Linked DNA regions of Homo sapiens: region 1 is linked to region 2. Evidence: fine-mapped expression QTL. A gene starts in region 2. The other region holds a variant in brackets. All regions are shown on one strand. Distances are from middle to middle.

The links.
Region 1: its variant is fine-mapped to the expression of FLVCR1 in aorta (GTEx, PIP 0.93).

The regions. Positions count from the first base shown.
Region 1 is chr1:212,896,749-212,908,272 of GRCh38, reverse strand. It overlaps FLVCR1 (FLVCR choline and heme transporter 1), which reads right to left. Exons shown (of 10, transcript NM_014053.4): 10 at 8,910-11,524. Among named protein-coding and RNA genes, the nearest start is that of FLVCR1, 44 kb to the right of the region's middle. RefSeq lists an enhancer at 1-94. The variant C/T (reference allele first, on the strand shown) is at 4,976.
Region 2 is chr1:212,852,331-212,862,587 of GRCh38, reverse strand. It overlaps FLVCR1 (FLVCR choline and heme transporter 1), which reads right to left and starts at 4,313. Exons shown (of 10, transcript NM_014053.4): 1 at 3,398-4,313. The coding sequence starts at 4,135. It overlaps FLVCR1-DT (FLVCR1 divergent transcript), which reads left to right and starts at 4,450. Exons shown (of 2, transcript NR_027286.1): 1 at 4,450-4,822; 2 at 5,670-5,984. It also overlaps the pseudogene RPS28P2. RefSeq lists silencers at 3,863-4,072, 4,153-4,212 and an enhancer at 10,013-10,257.

The DNA of each region.
Region 1 (11,524 bases), 45 kb before region 2:
AGTGCTGGGATTACAGGTGTGAGCCACAGCACCCGGCCGATGAATACTTTCAAAGGGCTCATGGTACAGTTGAGGCAGTGAGGTAATGCACATAAATAACAGAAGAAAACCATTCAAGGAATCTACCTTATGAATAAGAGTACCAAGTATTGAATAACGTTGCAAAGAATGAGTTTATTGCTGTGTATAGCCTCTCCAGGGACATCTTTTTAAATTCTGAGCTCCTGATGACACAATAGAAAGCTCTGGCCATGGACAAATTCTGCCCTAGCTGGAATGACCCAGATCTTGTCCGTCTTGGTTTGGGGTCAAAGTATGTTTTGAAGGATTCAGCCTTTTCACTGAAAAAGAAAGCACTGTCAGTCCTATTTCAGCCTCATTTTAATTTTTATGCATTATGAAACTTTATAAAAATCTAATTTATCATTTTATCTCAGGGAGTTTGGGGCCAGTTCATCCCTGGAAGAATCAAATGTTTTCCTCATTATGGGAATGAGAGGTATGCTCAAGCAGCATTTGTCAACCGAAACCTATGGGCTCCAACCAGAAATCAAGTTTCCACTGGTTTCCGCCAGGTTGTTCTCTTTACAGTTACCATTTCGCCCACGGGTTAAAATAATCAAGATAAAGGGAAAAGTGCAAATGGGTACATATAACAAGATAAAACAAAGGCTTAATACGTCACTTGTCGAAATGGAAAATGAGGCTCATATGTCTTATTTTAATGAGTCCTTTCTAAATTTCTCTCCTGTGCCGTCCTTTTCTCCTTTCTCAAGGCTATAGGGCCTCCAAGCCCCATCTCCTCCTCCCTCCTATTCAAACCTGCTTGCAGGACAGCCATCAGACTTAAGATGAGATATTCCCTCTTGGTAGTCTGGTGTGCTTTGAAACCTTCTCTCTCTTTAGGGACCCAAAAATATCGTATCTCCGGTGAAAGGTCATAAAGGCATCTTCCAGGCATGGGATCCTGTCAAGGGCCCTGAAATTACTTCAGGGCGGGATGTCACCTATTAGTTTGACCAACTCTTCCTGCAGAAAGTGAGGGGCAGTGTGGTGAGGACAAGAAGCTGACACTAACAGGTGGCTTACAGGAAAGAGGTGACTTCAGAAATGTGTTACTTACCTAGATTTCTTCGCCTGCTATTGAAAATAAAGAGTATCTTTTTTTCTGGATGGAAGTAGTTTTTCCCACTGAAAATCTAAATGTAAATTTTAGTGATTCTGAATGGGATCTGAGAAAGGTCTTAGATTTTAAAGTTCCTATTTCTTATAGGGTAGCCGGTAACAGATAAAATGCCATGTTATTATTTTATATTTTAAACAGTTTCATGGCTTTTGCCTCAAATATTTAGCTGTTTGTAAAACTAAATAATGCTGGAAACTTTATCCTGAAATATCATACTAATTATAATTTAAATGGCATGACAACAGATGGTAGTAGCAGCTTTTTATAACTCTTCGTTTACACAGAGGTAGTATCTTGCTTTGCAGCTACCAATTCTCTTCTCTTTGGTCTCATTAATAAAACCACCCTAAATCTTCTGCCTGTCTTTCCCTTAGGCTCCTTCTTTGTCTCCACTAACTCTTTATGTTCCACCTACCTCCTTTAATTAGAGGCCTTTGATCCTTGATCCTCCCTTACTCTTTATTCTCTCCATATTCTGGCATTGTGAATCATTGATCAATGTAGTGATAGCCAGTTTCTCCTTTCTAGAAGCAAGACCCTTTTCAGGGAATCCATAATGTCCAAACTCTTTTCATAATAATACAAAGAAGTTATATACCTTTTTCACTATGTTGACATTTGCAATGATGGTGCAAAAGTGGTGGCGGGCAAAATTGCTGTTCTACGCTAAAAGTTTAGTCCCACTTGTTTATGTTTGCTTTTGCTGTCTCTGTTTTTGGTGTCATATTAAAAAAAAATCATTGCTCATCAATGCCTATGTTTCCTCCTTACATTTTATGATTTCAGGTCTTATATTTAAGTCTTTGTTGTTGTTGTTGTTGTTATTGAGATAAGGTCTCATTCTGTCACTCAGGCTGGAGTGCAGTGGTGCAATCTCGGCTTACTGCAGCTTCAACCTCCTGGGCTCATGAGATTCTTCCAACTCAGCTTTCCTGAGTAGCTGAGACCACAGGCGTGTGCCACCATACCTGGCTAATTTTTAAATTTTTTTTGGTAGAGGCGAGGTCTTACTATGTTGCCCAAGCTGTCCTCAAACTCCTAACTCAAGTGATCCTTCCACCACGGCCTCCCAAAGTGCTGGGATTACAGGCATGAGCCACCACACCTGCCCTGTCTTTAATCCATTTGAGTTGATGTTTGTGTATGATGTAAGATAAGAATCCAATTTCATTTTTTTTTTTTTTTTGCATGTGGTTATCCAGGTTTCCCAACAGTATCTATTGAAGACTATCCCTTCCACATTGTGTATTCTTGTCACAGATTAATTGACAGTGTATGTATGAGTTTATTTCTGGGCTTTCTGTTCCATTGGCCTAGTTTGTTTTTATGAGAGTATCATGCCGTTTTGATTACAGTAACTTTGTAATATAATTTGAAATCAGGAAGTGTGATACAACTTTGATCTTTCTCAAGTTTGCTTTAGCTATTCAAGTTCTCTTGAGGTTCCACACAAATTTTAAGATTGTTCTATTTTTATGAAAAATGCGATTGGAATTTTGAGAGAAATTGTGTTTAATCTTAAGGTTGCTTTGGGTAGTTGGACATTTTGACAATATTGATTCTTCTGATCCATGTACTTGGGATATCTTCCCATTAATTTGTCTTCAATTTCTTGCATCAATGCATTATAGTTTTCATTGTACAGATTTTTCACCTCCTTGATTAAACTTATTTCTGAGTACTTTATTCTTTTTGATCTTATTGTAAATGAAATTTTTTGCTTAGTTTTTCAGATAGTTCATTAGTATATAGAAATGCAACTGTTTTCATATGTTGATTTTGTATCCAGCAACTTTCCTGAATTTATTTTTAAATGTTTTTTCATAGAATCTCTAGAGATTTTTATACATAAGATCATGTTATCTGCACACAATTTTAATTCTTCCTTTCAGGTCTGGATGCCTTTTATTTCTTTTTCTTATCTAATTACTCATGTTAGAACTTCCAGTCCTACTAAATAGAAGTGGTAAGAGTGGACCTCCTTGCCTTGTTCTGGATCTTAGAGGAAGAGATTTCAGCTTTTTCACCATTGAGTATAATGTTAGCTGTGGGCTTTTCATAAATGATCTTTATTGTGTTGAGGTTAAGCTCCTTCTATGTCTTTTTTTTTTTTTGAGGTTTTATCATGAAAGGGTGTTGAATTTTGTCAAATACTTTTTCTGCATCTATTGAGGTGACTATATAATTTTTACCCTTATAGTATATCACATTTATTGAATTGTATATGTTGAACCATCCTTATATCCCTGGGATAAATCCCATTTGATCATAGTGTATGATCCTTTTAATGTGTTGTTAAATTTGGTTTGCTAGTATTTTGTGGAGGATCAGGGATACTGGCCTGTAATTTTATTTTCTATAATGTCCTTGACTGGTTTTGGTATCAGGGTAATGCTGACAATTAGTTTGGAAGTGTTCGTCCTCTGAAATTTTATGGAACACTTTAAGAAGGACTAGTATTATTTTCTTTGAATGTGTGGTAGAATTCACCAGTGAAGCCACTGGGACTTTGGTTTTTCTTCTACGGACAATTTTTGATTACTGATACAATCTACTTACTTGTTATTGGTATACTCAGATTTTCTATCTCTTCATGACTCAGTCTTGGTAGGTTGTATGTTTATAGAAATTTATCAATTTCTAGGTTATCCAGTTTGTTGAAGTACAATTGTTCATAATAGTCTCATGATTCTTTGTATTTCTGTGGTATCAGTTGTAATATCTCCTCTTTCATTTACAATTTCATTTGAGACTTCTCTTTTTCTTACTCTAAGGTTCATCAATTTTGTTTTTCTTTTCAAAAAATACAACTCCTAGTTTCACTGATCTTTTCTATTATTTTTCTAGTCTATATTTCATTTATTTCTGTTCTCATCTTTGTCATTTACTTCCTTCTACTAATTTTGGGCTTAATTTGTTCTTCTTTGTCTAGTTCCTTCAGGTGTAAAGTTAGGTGATTTATTTAAGATATTTCTTCATGTGGCCATTTATTGTTATAATTTCCCTCCTTGAACTGTTTTTGCTGCATTCCATCAGTTTTGATATGGTAATGGAAATAGAAAGTATTTCTATTTTCATTTGTCCCAAAATATTTTTTGATTTCCTGTTTGATTTCTTCGACTCACTAGTTGTTCAGAATCTGTTGTTTAATTTCTACATATTTTTGAATTTTCCAGTTTTCTTTCTATTGGTGGGTAATTTCATATCATTGTGAAATAATATGTAATTGTGTAATTTCCTATCATTGTAAGCATCAGAGAAGTTGCTTAATATGATATTATGTCTTAAGGAATATATGATTATTTCAATTGTATTTCTTATTTAAATGTATTTTAAAGACATTCTTTTGGGCCTAACATATGACCCATCCTGGAGAATGTTCCATGTGTACTTGAGGAAAATGTGTACTCTGTTGCTATTGGATGGAATATTCAATATATGTCCATTAAGTCCATGTGGTCTAAGGTGTAATTCAAATCCAATGTTTCCTTATTGATTTTGGCTGGATGTTCTATCAATTGTTGCAAGTGGGGTACTGAAATCCCCTATTAATTCTACTGCTATTTCTCCTTTCAGATCTGTTAATATTTGCTTTGCATAATTTTAGGTAGTCCACTGTTGGCACACACACACACATGCACACACAACTTGTTGGATCCTCTTAAATAATTGACCCCATTAAGGCCAGGCACAGTGGCTCATGTCTGTAATCCCAGCACTTTGGGAGGCCAAGGTGGGCGGATCATGAGGTCAGGAGATCGAGACCATCCTGGCCAATGTGGTGAAACC[C/T]CGTCTCTACTAAAATACAAAAAATTAGCTGGCCATGGTGGTGCAGGCCTATAGTACTGGCTACTTGGGAGGCTGAGGCAGGGGGAATTGCTTGAACCTGGGAGGCGGAGGTTGCAGTGAGCCGAGATCACACCACTGCACTCCAGCCTGGCGACAGAGCGAGACTCTGTCTCAAAAAAAAAAAAAAAAAAAATTGACTCCATTATCATTATATAATAGTCTTCTTTGTCCCTTGTTAAAGTTTTTTAGGTGTTTTTTTTGTTTGTTTTTTGACAAGAGTCTCACTCTGTTGGCCAGGCTGGAGTGCAGTTGCACGATCTCAGCTCACTGCAACCTCTGTTTCCCAGGCTCAAGCGATTCTCCTGCCTCAGCCTCCTGAGTAACTGGGATTACAGGCGTCTGCCACCACGCCCAGCTAATTTTTGTATTTTTAGTAGAGATGGGGTTTCACCATATTGGTCAGGCTGGTCTCGAACTCCTGACCTCAGGTAACCCACCTGCCTTGGCCTCCCAAAGTGCTGGGATTACAGGCGTGAGCCACCATGCCTGGCCAAAGTTTTTACTTAAAGTCCATTTTGTCTGATTTAAATATAGCTACCCTGGCCAGGTGCAGTGGCTCACAACTGTAATCCCAACATTTGGGAGGCCAAGGCAGGCAGATCACCTGAGGTCAGGCATTCAGGACCAGCCTGGCCAACACAGTGAAACTCCATTTCCTAAAAATACAAAAATTAGATGGGTGTGGTGGTGCACACCTGTAATCCCCACTACTTGGGAGGATGAAGCATGAGAATCACAAGAACCCAGGAGGTGGAGGTTGCAGTGAGCTGAGATCATGCCACTACACTCCAGCCTGGGTGGAGTGAGACTCTGTCTCAAAAATAAATAAATAAATAAAGCTACCCTGCTCTATTTCTGTTTCCATTTGTATGGATTCTCTCTTTCCATCCCTTTACGGCCTATGTATATCTTTAAAGCTAAAGTGACTCTGGTAAGCAGCATACAGTTTGGTTTTTAAATCCATTTAGCCAATCTATGTCTATGATTGGATAATTTAACCCATTTACATTTAAAGTAATTATTGACAGGTAAGAACTTACAGGCATTTTGTTGTTTTCTGGCGGTTTTAAAGATCCTTTGTCCTTTTCTTCCTCTCTTGCTGTCTTTTGTGATTAGATGATTTTCCTTAGTAGTATACTTAGATCCCTTTCTCTTTATCTGTGTGTGTCTACTACGGGTTTCTGCTTTGTGGTTAAAACAGGCTTACATAAAACATCTTATTGTCTATTTTAAGCTGATAGCAACTTAACTTTGTTCACACACAAAAACTCTACACTTTTATACGCCATTTTATGCTTTTGCTGTCACAATATTCATCCTTTTATATTGTGTATCAATTAATGAATTACCAAAGCTAGTTATTTTTAATATTTTTATTTTAGCCTATACACGAGTTAAAATGATTTACACATAACCACTGCAGTATTAGAATATTCTGATTTTGACTATATACGTATCTTTACCAGTGAGTTTTATACCTTTTTATGTTTTCATATTAGCATTAAAATTAGCATACTTTTGTTTCAGCTTGAAGAACTCCACTTAGCATTTCTCGCAAGGTAGGTCTGGTGGTGATTTAACTCCCTCAGTTTTTATTTGTCTGGGAAAGTTAATCTTTCCTTTTCTGAAGGACAGATTTATCAGGTAAAGTATTCTTGGTTAGCAGTTTATTTTTCTTTTTTAAATTTCAGCATTTTGAATATATCATCCTACTCTTCTTGGCCTGCAAGGTTTCTGCTGAGAAATCTGATAGCCTATGGGGTCTCCCTTGTATGTGATAAGCTTCTTTTTCCTTGTGCTGCTTTAAAAATTCTCTTTGATTTTTGGCTGGGCACAGTGGCTCATACCTGTAATACCAGCACTTTGAGAGGCCAAGGCAGGTGGATCACTTGAGGCCAGGAGTTTGAGACCAGCCTGGCCAACGTAGTGAAACCTTATCTCTACTAAAAATACAAAAAAAAAAAAAAAATAGCCAGCCATGGTGGTGCATGCCTGTAATCCCAGCTACTTGGGAGGCTGAGGCATGAAAATCGCTTGGGCCTAGGAGGAGGTGGTTACAGTGAGCTAAGATCATGCCACTGCACCCCAGCCTGGGAGACAAGAGTGAGACTCTGTCTCAAAAAAGAGAAAAAAAAAAAAGGAAAAAAGTTTAATTCTTTTACTTTTGACTGTTTCAGTGTAATGTGTCTTGGCAAAGTCTTCTTTGGGTTGAACCAGATTGCAGAACTTTGAGCGACATATACCTTAATGTCTGTGTCTCTCCCACATTTGAGAAGCTTTCAGCCATGCTTTATTAAATAAGCTTTCTGCTCCTTCTTTCTCTTCTCCTTTATTATTTCCATAAAGCAACTGTTAGCTCTTAATGTTGTTCCATAAATCTCATAAGCTCTCTTTAATCTTTTCATTCTTTTTCTCTCCTCTGGCTGCATATTTTCAAATGACCTGTCTTGGAATTCAGATTCTTTCTTCTGCTTGATCAAATCTGCTGTTGACTACTGCTTTTTTCCTTTCTGATTGTATTCTTCAGCAGCAGAATTTTTTTATGATTTCTCTTTGCTGAACTTCCATTTTGTTCATGCATTGTTTTTCTGATTTCATAGAGTTGTATATCTGTTCTCTTGTAGCTCACTGAATTTTCTTAAAACAATTTAAATTTATTGTCAAGCAATTCATATATCTCAATTTCTTTGGATTTGTTACTGTAATATTATTGTGCTCCTTAGGTGATATCATGTTTCCATTTTTTGTTTTCTTGAAGTCTTCCATTTCCATCCTTGCATTTGAAGAAAATCACTTCCTCCAGTCTTTATTGACTAGCTTCAGGAGAGAAATGCCTTCATCAATCTGCCTGGCTAGGAATTCTGAGGCTCTCTCCTACCTTTCCTGTGGATTCACCTGCTCCACAACCCCTGTTCCCACTTGCAGCAGGGGATTCTTAAAAGTTATATGCCTTATCTCAATCCCACAAAGCCAGGCCAGGTGCTGACAGCTTCCTGTTTGTTTCCCCTGGGGTGGTGTCCTGAAGTACTCAAGTTTGTGTACCTTGCTTCAATTCCACAATCAAGCCATCTGTCTCTATATTTGATGCTTGCAGTTGCCATCCAATGTGGCATGCTTGGGAAGCCAGCCTCAGGGAGATGGGGGTGAGGTGCACAGAGAATTTGGGGTGGCCATGGGTCATGTGGGAGGTCCATATGCAAGGTATCCCAGTGGCTGGTGAGGCTTCCTGATGGAGTCTGTGGAGTGCTGAGTAGGTTTCAGAGCCTTTCTTCCCTGCTCCCAGCCTTTCCCAACGCTTAGCTATGACAGTCACCTCAATATTTTAATTGGAGCAAGAAAGAGGTAGGGTTCTTAGGCAGCATCCCACACAGCTAGGGGCTGAGCACTCTCACTATGCTATCACCTTCTCCCATGGGAGAAATTGTGGACTGAGGGGAGTCTCTCTTGCCACTAAGCTGTGCCAACTTCAAAGAGTGATGCAGATAAAGTGAAAATCTTCTTCTTCCTTTTCTTTAATGCATTTATTCTCAGATATTTCTGCTCCAATGGTGTGCTGGAACTTCCACGTAGGACTTCTGGATTCCTACAAAAGAACTACCATCTGAAAGTACTGGTAAAAATCAATGCTTCTGTGGAAGAATGATGATATAAAGCTCCTATTCTGCCATCTTGCTAACATCACTCTCTAAAGTTACTTTTAAAGGAATAAAATATTTTAGTATCTATTTTAGCCCTGACCCTGGTAGACTTTGTTTCCTCATTTTATGTTCCATGCACTACCTCATTCCCTCTTTGCCCATTCTGAAATTTTATAATCCCTTTAAACTCCCCATGTGTACCTAAGCATCAGAATTTTTCAAAAAGTCACAGAAAATTAACATAAAAAAATAAATTTATTTTGAGTCTGAAATACTGAAGAACAAGCATACAGATAAATAGTACAAAGAACAAAAATTAGAACATGAGTAATGACTTAAGACACAGGCATTTTTCTAGCTATTGCATACAGACACATTTTTACACACAAACATATTTTTTAAAGACATCTCTCCAACATTCTCAAAAGGCAAGAGCTGTATTTGTGACATTTGTAATAAATGCAACAGCTTTTGAAACATCCAGTTTCTTTCCTAAGTCATTTGATTAAAATTCACACAAGTGATGATTACCTATTCCATTTTCTGAAAATACGACATACAGTCATGTTTCGATCAACAATTGACCACATATGACAGAGATCCTATAAGATTATAATGGAACTGAAAAATTCCTATCACCTAGTGATGCCACAGCCATTGTTACATTGTAGCACAATGTATTATCTGTTCTATGTTTAGATTACACAGATACCATTGTGTTACAGTTGCCTACAGTATTCAATACAGTACCATGCTGTACAGGTCTGTAGCCCAGAAGCGACAGACTTTGCCATCTAGCCCAGGTGTGCAGTAGGCTCTACCACCTAGGTTTGTGTAAGTACACTTCATGATGTTCACACAATGATGAAATCACCTAATGACAAATTTCTCAGAATGTAGCTCTGTCATGAAGTCACACATTACTGTAGAATTATAACATTCTTGCTTGACATATTACAGACAACTTTCACTCAAAATACAGAAAAATTATCAATTCATTTTGCATTGTCACATATTCCATCACCTTTCTAATCAACAAGGAAAAATAAACATAACATATATGTATATGCTTTTCAGAAATAAAGTATTCTAAATTTTATGTGTAATTTGTTCCAAACCTCAGGAACTCAACAAGTACATGATTATTTTAAACAACATTGATAGTTTAAAAATAAAAACATTTGGGGAGAGACCTTAAAATATATTTTTGGCCGTTTTTACCTGTAATGTAAATATCAAAGGAAGCTAATGATTGGACATACTCTGCTTGAGTTACCCTCAACTGACTAAAAAGGCTAAAAAGAAATGTAAAAGTCCGTTGTATCCATAAGGTAGCAATCACATTTGTTTATCCAATTGTCCAGGGAATTTTTCTCTGGCTGGATTCAAGTTCCTGTGATACAATAATTTGGTCTATTCCATGATTAATGGCATTTAATATTTTGGAAAGATCTTTGAGATCAAATTGAACACATTCATTTCATGGATGAGGAAAACGCTGCCCAGAGAGGTTTAATGATTTGTCCAGAGTTATAGGAACATACAGAAATACATCCAGGACATGGACACAGAGTTCCTGATTCTTAGTCAAATTCTTTAGATAACACATTCCCCAGGGTCAGATTCGACATAATTTACAGTCACTTGATTATAGAGAATGTTATAATTTCAATATATATCAATGCATATATTCTGCCTGATATAGTTGGGATACTTGTCCCTCCAATCTCACATTGAAATGTAATCCCCAATGTTGAAGGTTGGCCCTAATAGAAGGTGTTTGGGTCCTGCGGGTGGATCCCTCATGGCTTGGTGCTGTCCTTGCAGTAATGAGTGAGTTTTCACAAAATCTGGTTGTTTGAAGGTGTGTGGCACCTCCCTGCTCTCTTGCTCCTGCTTCGCCATGTGACATCTCTGCTCCCACTTAGCCTTTCACCATGAGTAAAGCTCCCTGAGGGCTCCCCAGAAGCCGAGCAGACACTGGTGCCATGCTTACACAGCCTGCAGAACTGTGAGCCACTTAAACCTCTTTTATTTATAAATTACCCAGTCTCAGGTATTTCTGTTCTTTTTTTCCTGAAACAGAGTCTCGCTCTGTCACCCAGGCTGGAGTGCAGTGGCGCAATCTCAGCTCACTGTAGCCTCCGCCTTCCAGGTTCAGGCAATTCTCATGCCTCAGCTTCCCAAGAAGCTGGGACTACAGGCGTGTGCCACCATGCCCGGCTAATTTGTGTGTGTGTGTGTGTGTGTATGTATTTTTAGTAGAGATGGGGTTTTGCCATGTTGGCCAGACTGGTCTTCAACTCCTGGCCTCAAATGATCCACCCACCTCAGCCTCCCAAAGTGCTGGGACTATAGGTGTGAGCCATCGTGCTCAACCTCAGGTTTTATTTATTTATTTATTTATTTATTTATTTATTTATTTATTTATTTGAGACAGTCTCACTTTATCTCCCAGGCTGGAGTGCAGTAGTGTGATTTTCGCTCACTGCAACCTCTGCCATTCGCATTCAAGCGATTCTCCTGCCTCAGCCTCCTGAGTAGCTGGGATTACAGGCGCCTGCCACTGCGCTAATTTTTGTATTTTTAGTAGAGATGGGGTTTCACCATCTTGGCCAGGCTGGTTTTGAACTCCTGACTTTGTGATCCACCTGCCTTGGCCTCCCAAAGTGCTGAGATTACAGGCATGAGCCACAGCACTGCGCCTGGCCTTTTTTTTTTTTTTTTTTTTTTTTTTTTTTTTTAGTAGAGATGGGGTTTTACCATGTTGGCCAGGCTGGTCTTGAACTCCTGACCTCAGGTGATCCACACGCTTCAGCCTCCCAAAGTGCTGGGATTACAGGCGTGAGCC
Region 2 (10,257 bases):
ACATTTATCAACAGATAAATGGATAAACAAAATGTGGTATATTCATACAATGAAATATTATTCAGCTATTAAAAAGGAATGAAGTACTGATACAGTGCTACAACATGGATGAACTTTGCAAATAAGCTAAGTGAAAGAAGCCAGACACAAAAGGTCACCTACTGTATGATTCCATTTATATGAAATATCCAGAACAGGTCAATCCACAGAAAGAGAAGGGAAACTAGTACTTGCCACAGGCTAGGGGAGGGGGCAATGGTGGGGAAGTGACTGTTTAGTAGGTATTGGGCCTTCTTTGCGGGTGGATAAAAATGTTTTGAAACTAGACAGAAGTAACAGTTGCACAACACTGTAAATGTACTAAACGCCACTGAATTGTACACATTAAAATGGTTAGTTTTATTTATGTGAATTTTACCTCAACAAAAAATATGGCTAAATATCATAATCACAAGAAATAAAATCAAACTATTAGGAGGTTCAATGGAGGAAGGTTTTTAGGAGGAAGATTTTTAGGAGGAAGGGCGTGAGGAGGAAGGGCCCAAGAAAGGAGTCTGAGGCAGAGATAGTCACACTTATCAAATATTTCATTTGCTCCCTTACAAAAAGCTAGATAGAGGCCAGGCGCGGTGGCTCACACCTGTAATCCCAGCACTTTGGGAGGCCGAGGTGGGGGGATCACGAGGTCAGGAGATCGAGACCATCCTGGCTAACATGGTGAAACCCAGTCTCTACTAAAAAATACAAAAAATTAGCCGGGTGTGGAGGCGGGTGCCTGTAGTCCCAGCTACACGGGAGGCTGAGGCAGGAGAATGGCATGAACCCGGGAGGCAGAGCTTGCAGTGAGCCAAGATCGCGCCACTGCACTCCAGCCTGGGGGACAGAGCAAGACTCCATCTCAAAATAAATAAATAAATAAATAAAAATAAAACAAAAAGCTAGATAGAAAGAATATAACTGGTAATTACAAGAGAGGGTGGTAATACAGTACTGTGATTGAGACGTAAACAGTGCCAAGACTGGGGAGACCACGTAATTTACTATCCATCTAGAATACTCTTCAGAATGAAAGGGACTTCATTAGTAATCATACCAGACAACAGGTGTACCACCTGGACTATCCCAAGCAAACTGGGACATATGATCATGGTAGCTAAGAGAGTACTTTGGGGGAGCACCTTATATAGAAATATTATTCAGCTATCAAAAAGAATGAAAAGAAATGGGGTTCAGAAAAAGTTCCTGGAGGAGCAAAGATCTGAATAAGAAATTGGAGTTAGTCAAGTGAAGAAATATTCCAAGCCAACAGGACATTACATACAAGGCCAGGAGGGAAAGGGCACGACCTTGTGAGAAACTATAAGTAGGCATAGTTCTGCACAGAGCAGAGAAAGCATATGTCTGTGGGGACAGGGGTTGTGCATACAGATAAAGTGGAAGGGCTGGCAGGAGGCAGATCTGGAGGGTCCCATATGTCACACTAGAGTGTTTGAATTTTATCCTAAGGACAATGGAAGCCACTGCAGGGGGTAAGGATGTGCCCGGAACAGATTTGCACATTGTAAAAGACCACGCTGGATGAATGCGAGAACAGAGGGAAGACAGCAAGGGCTACAGATAGGGAGGACAGTTAGCAAGCTCTAGGTGAGAGCTGTGGGTGGCCCAAACCAAGACAGTGGCATTAGAGATAAAGGGAAATGAGCAAGGAGAAAGCAATTTTGAGTGGTGTGTTCCCATGAGATATCCAAGTAGACTATCCAGCTGGCCAGTATCTGTATGAGTCTGAAGCTCCTTTATTTATTCAACATGGTTTTATGGAGAGTAATAAATGCTGGTGATACAGCTGTGTACATTCAGACCACATTCCTATTTTCATGAAACTTACAATCTAATGGTGGGGATAAGAGAAAAGTAATAGGTAAGTAACATATGAACATGTAAACAATAACATATGAGACAGGGATGAGTGCTATAAGGAGAATTAAAGTAAAATAATGTAAAGAGAGTGACTGGGCAACTCTAAATGGGATCAAGAAATGCTACTGAATATTTAAAAATGAATTTAAACTGAGAGATGTGTGACAAAGAAAATGTAATCATGGCCGGGCGTGGTGGTTCACACCTGTAATCCCAGCACTTCGGGAGGCAGAGGTGGGCAGAGAGCTTGAGCTCAGCAGTTCGAGACAAGCATGAGCAACATGGAGAAACCCCATTTCTACAAAAAAAAAAAAAAAAAACCACACACACAAAAAACTTTATAATAGCTTCTGTCCAAACCTGCAGATGCAACCAACTCAAGTATCAGTCATAAATTATTTTGGACAAACAACTATAGTTCAACCTACTCCATCTTCTGTACTTTTAGATAAGGGAAATGACTATAAAGCAATAAGCATGTAGATTCTCATGCCTTGGCCACCTGAGTAGCTGGAATTACAGGCATGCACCACACCATGCCCCACTAATTTTTGTGTATTTGGTTTTGCCATGTTGGCCAGGCTGGTCTCAGACTCCTGGCCTCAAGTGATCCGCCTGCCTCAGCCTCCCAAAGTGCTGAGATTACAGGCGTGAGCCACCACGCCCAGCCCAGAACTTTTGGTTAGCAGTCATTTATGTGTCCCTTATGTGCCAGGAACTGTGCTGACTGCTAATATATGAAATTAAAAGGGAGCTGTTCACAATGACCTCTCAAAATGGAAACAATCTTCCCAGAACCCAATACCTTCCTTTCACAAATACACTGGTGACAAAAATAATACCCCAAGTCTTGTTCGTTACTGCATTGACAAATTTTCCATGTTAGGCATACACAAGCCAATACAGTTAATTATTATTATTATTATTATGGTTACAGTTTATTATTATTATTTGAGACAGAGTCTCACTCTGTCACCCAAGCTGGAGTGCAAAGGTGCAATCTCCGCTCACTGCAACCTCCACCTCCCGGGTTCAAGAGATTCTCCTGCCTCAGCCTCCTGAGTTGCTGGGACTACAGATACCCGCAAGCAGGCCTGGCTAATTTCTGTATTTTTAACAGAGACGGGGTTTCCCCATGTTGCCCAGGCTGGTCTGGAACTCCTGACTTGAAGTGATCCACCCACCTCGGCCTCCCAAAGTGCTGGGATTACAGGTGTGTGCCACCGCGCCCGGCCCAGTTAATTATTTTATAGGTAATTTTCAAAGCAAGATGACAAGGTCGTTTGGAAAATTTTGTCCTTACAAAGAAATTTATAGCCCACTTCAATCCAAGACGGCCTCCTATTCAACGGCTTCATCTCCTCTTTTATAGACAAATACCTCCTGGGGCAGTTCATCCATACAGGCCATAGTTCTCACGGCCTATGACTTTTTCCGGTCTTTTAAGGATCTGACTTTCACCTACCACTCCAGTACTTACCTGATTGCCCAGCACGGCGGTGGCACAAGCTGTGGACACCTCTTTGGGCCCAAACCACACTGAGGCGATGCGGGAGGGCAAGCCCAGGATGAACACCTGGGCCACCGAGCACAAGCACTGGCCCAACATGGTGACCCAGAAGAGATGCTGCTGCACACTGCCGCACTTGATCCAGGCACCCAGGCAGTTGAGGCCGGAGCCCAGCAGGGCGGTGAGCCGCAGGCCTCTGGTGTCCAGCAGCCAGGTGGCCGGGAAGATGAGGGGCACGTAGGCCAGCATGTACACCATGGACAGCCAGTCGATGTGCAGCAAGGTGACACCGTAGAAGCCCTCGAAGACGTTGCTAATGATGCTGTACTGGATCCACTGAAAGGCGTTGACCAGCGAGTACAGGCTGAAGATCAGGAGCACCACGAAGCGCCGCGGGGAGAGCGCCGTAAGGGGCAGCGGGCTGCTCTCGGCCCCCGGGGTCTCAGCTCCCGCGCCCGCAGGCAGCAGCCGGGCCTGGGTCTCCTCTTCTGGGGCCAGTGGAGTCTGAGGCCCGCCCAGAACTCCCGAGGCGGCAGCGAGGCTGTCCCGGGGGGCCCCATTCACCGGGAAGGTGCCCGCTTTGGGCCCGTTCTGCAGCTCCACGCTCTCCTTCCCAACGGGCGCGCCCCTCGGCAACGGGAGGTATCCTTTCGCGAGCGGGTGTCCGGGCGCCACCGCCGCCCCCTCCTCATCGTCTGGCCGCGCCATATCCCAGGCTCCCCGGCGCCACCTCGCTCCCCCGCCCCACTCCCCGACTCCGCTCTCCCGGCCCACAGCCCGAGGTCCTCCTGGGGCCCCACCTCCAACCCCTCGGCCCACCGCTCCTTCCCCGGTGGCGCGCGCCGCGAACCGCAATCCGCGCTACCGCGTGAACAGATGAAGGTCTCCTCCCCCGCGCCGCGCGGCAGTCACCCCTTGTCTGGTCCCGCCCCTAGAGTCGCGCGTCCTGCATGACTACGGCCCTCCGGCCAATCAGCGTGCGCCTTTGTCCGGCGCGAGAGCCAGTCGGGGAGCTACCGGGCGAGAACTTCGGGAGGCGGGGGAGGAAAGCGGCCGGCGAGCGCTGGCTGACATTTTCCTGCCCGGAAGGATGCATGGCCCGGGGTCTCCTGCACCTGAGGGTGGGCGGGAGGCGGCCCCGCGGGTTGTGTTGCTGGAAAAAGGGGTCTCGATCCAGACCCCAAGAGAGGGTTCTTGGGTCTACTTCAGGGAAGAATTGGAGGCGAGTCACAGAGCGCAGTGAAGGAAGCAAGTTTATTGGAATCTACTCCGTTAGAGAGTGCAAGTCCTCAGACTGCAGGAGGAGGAACTCCCGTCCTTCGGTAGTGTCACTACTTAGAGGCAGCTGTGAGGAGCTGTGATTAATCGTGGAATGTGCTGATGTGCCCACTAAAGGTAGGGGCTGTTGGTGCACTAATGACCATTAATCCTTCAACCTAAGCCTGCGCATTGACGTTATCTCTGAGTAGAGGGCTGGGCCGGGCTCGGTGGCCACGTCTGTAATCCCAGCACTGTGGGAGGCCGGACAGGAGTCTCCCTTGAGCCCAGGAGTTCGAGACCAGCCTGGGCAACATACTGAGATGCCATCTATTTAAAAAAAAAAAAAAAAAAAAAAAAGCCAGTAGCCAGGCGTGGTGGTGCATGCCTGTAGTCCCAGCTACTCAGGAGGCTGAGGCAGGAGAACTACTTGAACCTGGGAGGCGGAGGTTGCAGTGAGCTGAGATCGCACCACACTGCCCTCCAGCCTAGCCTGGGCGACAAAGTGAGACCTTGTCTAAAAAAAAAAAAAAAACTCAGGACATCTGGACAATTCCGCAGACTTGGTGGGAGATGTCCTGTATGGCCATAAATATTGTGTAATTATAATTGTTGGTCAGCTTAGAATGCGGCTATTTTCAGACCTTTAGCATTAACCTTATAGGTGCCTTGTGAGTGCCTAGTTACTCACTTTAACATGCAGTCGCTCTAGCCATGTTTTATTAAACCAGATGCCTGGTAAGCAGTGGCTCCTCTAACAAGTGGGCAGCTTGGAACTGGGAACGAGAGAGCCACCGAAACAGAATGAGGGAGACAAAGAAGTGGGCATCACCCTTAACTCCACAAGGGCTTCCCAAGGGCGCTGTACCGTACGCAGGCCCAGGACGAACTTTATTTCTCGCCCCAGCATCGCTGTCCTTGTCGGTGAGACCCTGGCTTTAGGGCAGACAGGACCACGTTTCATAAGTTCATGCTGTCCCAGCAGAGGAATAACGCCAGAAAGTGTTCCAGTACAACCAGAGAAAGAGAGTCCATGAGAAATCTGCCCTTGTGAAGTTGGAATCCCCTCAACCTCACCCCGCTGACTTGAATGAAGCGACTGAGACGGGCTATGATGGAGCAGATCCGGTTGCTCGACCTTCTCCCTTGCACCAACACATGTAGTTAATAGTTACTGGACATGCATATTCAGTGGGTTCCAGGTACCAAACTTGTATTGAATGGTATGTGCCAGACACCGTCTTGAGATCTGGAGAATAAAAAAATAAAAAAATAAAAACGAGACATCCAGAGCACAGTAGCCTTGCGGTCTTCCTGGAACTAGAGAAAATTCAGCCCTTCTGCTCCTTGGGAAGCTATGTTTGGGAAAAAAAAAAAAAGAGAGAGAGAGAGACTCCAAAGAGTTTGTTATTAAATTTAAGTTCAAACTAGGTGTATATAGTACAAAAGTTCTTACCATGCATTTAATCTTAAAATGTGCTGATATCTAGAACCCTAAAACCCTGCACTTTTTTATTGCCTCTTACATTATTATTTTGGTCATGTATGAAATATATCAGGCATCTCTCGGTACAGGTGAAATGCTACATGTTCTAAACTAAGGAATAAGTGCATTATTATAATGTCTTCCTTGGCCAAACTGTATAAATCCCCCCCTCCGCCCGCCCCGGCCAACATCCCTTCCCTGCTTTTTTTTTTCTTTCTTTCCTAGTGCTTACCTTCACCTAAAATGTCCTATATTTTTACTTTTTTTTTCTGGTTATTTTCTTTCTTTCTTTTTTTTTTTGACAGTCTTGCTCTGTCACCCAGGCTGGAGTGCAGTGGCGCGATCTCGGCTCACTGCAACCTCCACCTCCCAGGTTCAAGCGATTCTTCTGCCTCAGCCTCCCGAGTAACTGGAACTACAGGCCCGCGCCATCATGCCTGGCTAATTTTTGTATTTTTCTTTAGTGGAGACAGGGTTTCACCATATTGGCCAGGCTGGTCTTGAACTCCTGACCTCGTGATCCGCCCGCCTCAGCCTCGCAAAGTGCTGGGATTACAGGCCTGAGCCACCGAGCCTGGCCTCTTTCTTTCTTTTCTTTCTTTCTCTCTCTCTTTCTTTCCTTCTCTCTCTCTCTCTCGGCTGACCACCAAGCCTGAGTACTTTTTGTATTTTTTGTAGAGATGGGGTTTTGCCACATTGCTCAGACTGGTCTCAACTGATCAGCTCACTTCGGCCTCCCAAAGTGCTAGGATTACAGGCATGAGCCATTGTGCTGGGCCTTTTTCTGGTTATTTTCTCCCTGCCCACTAGAATGTGAGTTCCATAAGGGCAGGGCTGAAAGTTTTGTTGCTTTTTGCTACCGCTACTATTTTTCAAGAATTTGTAACCAGTGTACTTTGTGCGAGTACCTAGCACATAGTAGCTGTTCAATAAATATTTACTGAGTACAGCTAATGAATACTGAATTACCGTGAATATTTTAAATAATTACTTGCTTTGTAAAGAAATCTATTTCTTCTCTCTGCCCAACTGCTGCTGCATCGCCATCACAGACACCAGCCATGTGCAGCCTATCTAGCTAGCCAGGGTCACCAAGGTCCTGGGCAGAACCAGCTCTCAGGGACAGTGCATGCGGGAATTTATGGAAGACACAAGCCACTCCATCATCCACAGTGTAAAAGACCCCATGCGCAAGGGCTATGTGCTCACCCTGTTGGAGTCAGAGCGAGAGGCCTGGAGGTTGCACTGAGCTTGGCTGCTCACTGGGTCTTGGATGTTGGGTTCGACCACTTGGTCCATGAGAATGCTGTGCCATGATCTGCTCCTTTATTTTATTTGCCAGCCGCACAGGAATTGAGATATGCATTTAAATAAAGTGTTTGTGTGCCAAATTAGAAAGAAAAGAAAGGAAAGAGACAAAGAAAGAAGAGAGAGAGAAAGAAAGAAAGAGAGAAAAAGAAAGGAAGGAAGGAAAAAAGGAGGGAGGAGAGAAGGAAGGAAATCTTTTTTTAAATTATTATTATTATTTTTTTTTTTTTTTTGAGACGGAGTTTCGCTCTTGTCACCCAGGCTGGAGTGCAGTGATGCGATCTCGGCTCACTGCAACCTCTGTTTCCGGGGTTCAAGCGATTCTCCCTCCTCAGCCTCTCAAGTAGCTGGGATTAAGGCGCCCACCACCACGTGAAATCTGTTTCTTAAAAAAAAAAAATCTTGGCCAGGTGCAGTGGCTTACGCCTGTAATCCCAGCACTTTAGGAGGCCGAGGCGGGTGGATCACGAGGTCAGGAGATCAAGACCATCCTGGCTAACACGGTGAAGCCCATCTCTACTAAAAATACAAAATATTAGCCGGGCATGGTGGTGGGCGCCTGTAGTCCCAGCTACTCGAGAGGCTGAGGCAGGAGAATAGCGTAAACCCAGGAGGTGGAGCTTGCAGTGAGCCGAGATCGCGCCACTGCACTCCAGCCTGGGCGATAGAGCGAGACTCCGTCTCAGAAAAAAACAAAAACAAAAACAAAAACAAAAAAAGTCTTGCAAACTTCCAGAAGGAAGGGAAGGAGGGAGTGAAATCTATTTCTTTCTCTTTTCCTTTTTCTTTTTTTGACACAGAGCTTTGCCCTTGGAGTCCAGGCTGGAGTGCAATGATGAAATCTCAGCTGACTGCAACTTCTGCCTCCCGGGTTCAAGTGATTCTCCTGCCTCAGCCTCCCAAGTAACTGAGATTACAGGTGCCCACACCCGGGTAATTTTTGTATTTTTAGTAGAGACAGGGTTTCTCCATGTCGGTCAGGCTGGTCTCGAACTCCTGACCTCAGGTGATCCACCTACCTCAGCCTCCCAAAGTGCTGGGGTTACAGGCATGAGCCACCGTGCCCGGCCACCATTCTAATTTCTTAATCTTGTCTTCTTTCTCTGGCTTCAGTGGTAGATATTTATTAACCAGTTTAAACATGAGTCATTATTTATATCAAATGTTTGGATGTATAACGTAAAATGAACCTTAATCTCTGTCAAAAAAGATACTACTGGGAGCATCGTTTGGCTGGGAGTCAAGATGAGATTGAGCTACTTTATGGGTGTGGAATGCCAAGTCAGAGAGATTTGAATAAGTAACACTTCAGCAATATGAGATCTGGACAGCATCCAGGAGCCAAGGTCCAAGATGCTAATAGGAGTGATGTAGCTGTCCCTGAACAAAGGTTTGCCACAGTTTACGAGCCTCAGAGGTTAAGATGCAAACCAGAACAATGCTATTGGATGTGCAATCCATGATGTTTCATGGGGAGGTGGGTAGATTTGGGCAACCTTGCCTTCAGTTTACTCCTACTAGCATCAGGCTCTGTCCACCTGATCAGCAGAGGCTATATGGTTCTATTTTGTGAAAAGATCAAGTTGGAAATGGAGGAGTAGAGGAGAAGGTTGGAAATCAGAATCCTCCCACATGTATTCTTCCCTCCATTGAGACATTTTATTTGTATATATTTATTCCTGAAAAAAAAAAAAAAAAAAGAGTCCCAGGATTTTTTCTCCTGTGTTTTTGTCTTGTTTCTTCTCGGTCCATGATGCCAGTTGAGGTCATCAGTACAGCGAAACCAAACTGGTGAGATGGGAACAAATTATTCTGTCACTTTTCTAGATCTTTTTATTTATTTTTTTATTTATTTTTTGAGATGGAGTCTCGCTCTTGTTGCCCAGTCTGGAGTGCAATGGCGAGCCTGGGTTCAAGACCAGCCTGGGTAACATGGCGAAACCCCTTCTCTACCAAAAAAATACAGTATTTAGCTGGGCCTGGTGCATGCCTGTAGTCCCAGCTACCTGAGAGGCTGAGGTGGGAAGATCGCTTGAGCCCAGGAGGTCAAGGCTGCAATGGGCTGAGATCACGCCACTCCAGCCTAGGCAACAGAGTGAGGCCTTGTCAAAAAAAAAAAAGAGAGAGAGAGAGATACAAGCCTTCAGAGACCCTCATATTAACTTCATGGTAAATCTGCCTCTGCTCACCCCTCCCACCTGTAGCAACTAATATCTTCATTTCCAGATTTACTCTGAAAAAACTGTGCAACTGCTTCACATGTTTCCTCTTGATTCACTAATTTGTAACTCACTTACTGAAACTCTGATGAAAGAATTGAGTCAAAAAATAAATAGACCTCCTTCCCAGCCCTGGCTTGTTCAGAGCATCTACTACAGAGGAGTCTTAAGGGTTTTGTATGCTTAGAGTTGAGAGACCAAATAGCTCCTGAAAACTGTAGCTAGAGGAAATGCCATATGGAGACAGGCCACAAGGAGAACTCAAGCCCCTGTAAACCAAAAATGAAATATTCTAAGCCCCCAATTTACTAAACAGATTCAACCTCCCACTTCAGCCTCCCAAATAGCTGGGATTACAGGCGCATGCAACCATGCCCGGCAAATTTTTGTGTTTTTTGTAGAGATGGGGTTTCGCCATGTTGGCCAGGCTGGTCTTGAACTCCTGACTTCAAGTGATCTGTCCACCTCACCCTCCCAAAGTGCTGGGATTAGTGAGCCACTGCAACAGCCCTCTAACACTTATTTCTGAAGTTTTTTTTCTTCCCTCCTTCTCGGAAGCC